Linked DNA regions of Homo sapiens: region 1 is linked to region 2. Evidence: fine-mapped expression QTL. Tissue or cell type: hippocampus. Region 2 holds a variant in brackets; the other region holds the start of a gene. All regions are shown on one strand. Distances are between the middles of the regions.

What was found. PIP is the estimated chance that this variant, and not a neighbour inherited with it, causes the effect.
Region 1: it holds the start of MXD3, and the variant in region 2 is fine-mapped to the expression of MXD3 in hippocampus (GTEx, PIP 0.98).

Annotation. Positions count from the first base shown.
Region 1 is chr5:177,310,659-177,313,158 of GRCh38, reverse strand. MXD3 (MAX dimerization protein 3) reads left to right here and starts at 1,261. Exons shown (of 6, transcript NM_031300.4): 1 at 1,261-1,398; 2 at 1,675-1,780; 3 at 2,462-2,491. The coding sequence starts at 1,329. RefSeq lists enhancers at 127-186, 1,837-2,036, 2,294-2,500 and silencers at 407-976, 1,107-1,286.
Region 2 is chr5:177,160,964-177,163,463 of GRCh38, reverse strand. The region is part of intron 2 of NSD1 (nuclear receptor binding SET domain protein 1); the gene reads right to left. Among named protein-coding and RNA genes, the nearest start is that of NSD1, 28 kb to the right of the region's middle. The variant T/AAACT (reference allele first, on the strand shown) is at 1,072.

The DNA of each region.
Region 1 (2,500 bases), 150 kb before region 2:
AGACTCAGCCCGTGGCTGGCAGCAATGCTCCACCCTGCTACAGCTGCGTTCATCTTCCTGTCCCCAGATGTGGCCCCACCTGCTGGTGCTGAGGCTAGAAGTCATCACAGCCACTCCTTCGGCCGGCTAGGAGAGTCAGGTGCAAGAAGGGTTTATGGACTCTGAGTAAGGCAAGCAGGGGCTGCCTGGGAGGCAAACGCCGCGGTCTGGTTGCACTGGCCTTTGAGATGGGCGGCTCCTTCATGCCATGGGCACCGCAGAGGCATTGGCTCTGATCCTTCAACGCTGTCGCAGGGCTCCTGAGGCTTAGAGACGGAGGTCACCTCCTGAGTCATACACAGCTGAGACATCAGTGACAGGAGAGGACCCCAACTGCGTGGATACCAGAGCCCAAGGCCCCGGAAAAGGCCATTTCGCGTGCCTCCAGGGTATGGCCTGCCTGAGGAAGCTGTTACCCCACTGACGTTTTCGTAGCAACAACAGCTTCCTCACAGAAGAGGAGGGGGGCCGAGATATTATTCCCATTCGACACAGTAGGAAGCTGGGGCCCACGGGGGCCTTCGGGGGCAGATGGCAGGCAGGCTTGGGGACAGACCCCGGAGGGCAGGAGCCGGGTCCGCCGCCCCTCCGCCGGCGCCTGCGCATTGAGGCCCAGCTCCCCTCTCAACCCCGCCCCATCGCTTGGGTTTTCAAATTTGAAACCTGCTTCTTTTCCCGCCCGAACGTGTGGATCAGCGGCGGGAGAGGGCGGGGCAGAGCGCCAGCCAATAGGGCATCAGAGGCTCCCCGACCCCGCCCCGAGGATGACAACAGCGATCCTTGAGAAGCCATGTGCGAATGGGCGAGCGGCGGCCGGAGGCCCCGCCCCCGCGGCACCCACGTGCAGCGGCTGGGCCCGGCGCTTTCAGGGGACCACCAGGCCCCCAGAGCGCCGTGCTATGTTGGGGGCTAGTCACTAGCACGGGGCTGGAAGCTGAGATCAAAGACGCCAATGAGCCGGCGTGGGTGGATGAGTGAGGCGGGCAAGAAGCAGCACCGGTTAGCCTGAGGGTTCGCTCCAGGGCCAGGCCTGGAGCCAGCGCCCTTACCTGCCCCTGGAAAGTCTGAGACCACTCGGGGCGGGGCGGCTGCCGGAGGGTGGGCTGCGGCTCCGTGGCGGGTTCCAGAGGGGCGGAGCCAAGGGCTGGGCGTTCCCGCGGGCGGGGCGTCCCGGGGGCGGGGCGGGCCCCTGTGTTTGTTGCACCGTGTCAGTTACTTTGTAACAAAAGTGCTGCAGCCGCTTGCTCCGGCCGGCACCCTAGGCCGGCCCGCCGCCAGCTGTCGCCGACATGGAACCCTTGGCCAGCAACATCCAGGTCCTGCTGCAGGCGGCCGAGTTCCTGGAGCGCCGTGAGAGAGGTGAGGAAGGACCCTTGGCTGAATTCCGGGCGGCGACCTCGCTGACACGGGCCTGGACTGGACCTGGCTCCCAGCTTGAAGGATGCACCGCCCTAGGACAGTAATCCCGGGGCGCCTCGCCCTCAACTCGAGAGGAGTCCCGGGGCGGTAGAGCAGGGACGGGTGGGGGAAATGGTCCTGGCGCCAAAAGCCTTTCCTTGACCGTGCTGTGCCTGGGGCTGCCGCTGGGACCAGGTCCAGCCCCAGCCTGACGCGGGCGGGGACTCTCTCTGGCAGAGGCCGAGCATGGTTATGCGTCCCTGTGCCCGCATCGCAGTCCAGGCCCCATCCACAGGAGGAAGAAGCGACCCCCCCAGGCTCCTGGCGCGCAGGACAGCGGGCGGTGAGGAGGCCGGGGGCGGCGGGAGTGGGGGTGGGGGTGGGCGCCGCCCCTGGTCGGGCCCTCCTCTGCCCACTTGTTGCTTGCATCTTTTGGGCCAGGTGTCCCGCTCCAGGAAGCGTTCAGACCCCTCCTGCCATCTCCCCACTCTCCAAACACACTCACACCTTTCTATTCATTCAAGGACTATTTCTTGAGCACCTCTAGATGTGCCGGGAACTGCCAACAGCAGTTGGGGTCCCGCTTCCACTCGCACTCCCGCACCCCACACATCAGGCCACTCACCTCCCCCGCTGGCTTCCTCCTCTTCTCTCCTCTCCCCAGCCCTTTGCATATGCTGTTCCCTCCTATTTGAATGCCCCTCCCTCCAGTACCGGCTTGGGAAACATCTGTTTCCGCAGTTAGCTGTCACCTCTGGGAGGTCCTTTCTGGCCAGCTGGCAGGCGCCCTTGTTAGGGCCCTCATACCCACCTGGGCAGGCTTCTGTTAAGCATTTGGCTCCGTGTGTCTTTGACTCCCCTCGCCCTGCCAGGGGACTCTGGTGTCTGAGGCCAGCATGAGCTCTCCACAGGGGACTTGTTTGGGGCAGACATCTGTAGTGGCTCTTGAGCCACTGGGGGCCCTGGGATTGGGGCATGGGCAGTAGCTGATTCCCCTTCACCTCATCCTCTCTGGCATTGGCAGGTCAGTGCACAATGAACTGGAGAAGCGCAGGTGAGTCCC
Region 2 (2,500 bases):
CCTTTCTACGTAAGAAATTTCATGGCTGGGCGCGGTGGCTCATGCCTGTAATCCCAGCACTTTGGGAGGCCAAGGTGGGTGGATCATGAGGTCAGGAGTTCAAGACCAGCCTGGCCAACATAGTGAAACCCCGTCTCTACTAAAAATACAAAAATTAGCCGGGCATGGTGATGCGTGCCTGTAGTCCCAGCTACTCGGGAGGCTGAGGCAGGAGAATCACTTGAACCCAGTAGGTGGACGTTGCAGTGAGCCGAGATCGTGCCACTGCATTCCAGACTTGGCAACAGAACGAGACTCCGTCTCAAAAAAAAAAAAAAAAAAGAGACATTTCATTAATCTTTATCACTTTTGGCATTATTTGTCAACTGAGGGAGAAATTAACTAATTATTTCACATTTACTTTTGAAGGCCAGCAGTAATCCCAGGAACTTGAGACCAACCTGGGCAACACAGGGAGACCCTGTCTCTTGAAAACATTTTTTAAAAATTAGCCAGGTATGGCTGAACATAGTGGCTCATGTCTGTAATCCCAGCACATTGGGAGGCCGAGGCAGGTAGATCACTTGAGCTCATGAATTCTAGACCAGCCTGGGCAAACATGGCAAAACCCCATCTCTAAAAAAAATAAAAAATTAGATGGGTGAGGTAGCGCCTGTGCCAGCTACTCAGGAGGCTGAGGTGGGAGGACTGCTTGAGCCCAGGAGGCAGTGAGCTTAGATCACACCACTGCAGTCCAGCCTGCATGACAGAGAGTAAGACCCAGCCTCAAAAAAGCTATAATGGGCAAGGCAAGGTAACTCATGCCTGTAATCCCAGCACTTTGGGAGGCCAAGGTGGGCGGATCGCTTGAGCTCACAAGTTTGAGACCAGCCTAGCCAATAGGGCGAAAGAAACCCTGTCTCTACAAAAGCATGGTGACACATGCCTGTGGTTCCAACTACTCATGAGGCAGAGGTGAGAGGATCGCTTGAATCTGGGATGCAGAGGTTGCAGTGAGCCGAGATCCTACCACTGAACTCCAGCCTGCGTGACAGAGTGAGACCCCCATCTCAAACAAACAAACAAACAAAC[T/AAACT]ATAATGACTTCCAGCCTGGTTAATTTTAACAAATTCCTAGTAAAAATTTGGAAAGACCCGATGACATTTTTCAACTAGATTTTTTTTTTTTTTTAAGACCGAGTCTCACTCTCTTGCCCAACCTGGAGGGCAGTGTCCTGATCTCAGCTCACTGCAACCTCCACCTCCCGGGTTGAAGCAATTCTCATGCCTCAGCCTCCCGAGTAGCTGGGACTACAGCCATGAGCCACCACGCCCAACTAATTTTTGTGTTTTTAGTAGAGATGAGGTTTCCCCATGTTGGCCAGGCTAGTCTCGAACTCTGGATCTCAGGTGATCTGCCCACCTCAGCCTCCCAAAGTGCTGAAATTACAGGAGTGAGCCACAGCGCCCGGCCTCAATTAGATTCAATCTGTGCTTTTTCCCACTGAGTAGCAGCCAAAATTAAGAAACAGAAACAAGTGCCTAGAACAGTGGCTCACACCTGTAATCTCAGCACTTTGGCAGGCTGAGGCAGGTGGATCTGTTGAAACCAGGAGTTCAAGAACAGCCCGGCCAACATGGTGAAACCCCATCTCTACTAAAAATACAAATATTAGCCAGGCGTGGAGGAGGCTAGAGGAGGAGAATCACCTGAACCCAGGAGGCAGAGGTTGCAAGTGTGCCAAGATCATGCCACAGCACTCCAGGCTGGACTCTATCTCAAAAAACAAAAACAAAAAAAAAAAAAAAGAAAGAAAGAAACAGAAAACAGGTTTATAAATAACCCAATGTTCACAGGAAAAATTCAGGTAAAAAAAATATAATTTCAATCGTTTGCACAAAAAATAGAGGCCTAGATGGAAGGATTACTTGAGCCCAGGAGTTTGAGACCCAGCCTGGGCAAAATAGTAAGACCCTATCTCTATTTAGAAAAAAATTTTTTAAAAATAGGAGAATATAGGGAAAGGTCTATCTACACCTTGCCTACCCCTCCAATGTCATCCCTTCCTGCCCCACCCTCCCAGCCTAATCACGCCACACTGAATTTTTTTTTTTGAGACAGCATCTCACTCTGTCACCCAGGCTGGAGTGCATAATCAGAGCTCACTGCAGCCTGGAACTCCTGAGCTCAGATATCTTCCCACCTCAACCACCCAAGTAGCTGGGACCACAGGCACATGCCACTCCACCCAGCTAATTTATTTTTTTTGTAGAGGCCGGATCTCCCTATGTTCCCCAGGCTTGTCTCAAACTACTGGGCTCAAGCTAGACTCCCACCTCAGTCTCCTAAAGTGCTGCGATCACAGGCATCAGCCCCCATGCCTGGCCCATACTCAACTTTTTATTCTCCCAAAGCAGCAGCTTTGGGAGAATAAAATTACTCCTGTAATTTCAGCACTTTGGGAGGCTGAAGTGGGCAGATCACCTGAGGTCCAGAAGTTGAGACTAGCCTGGCCAACATGGGGA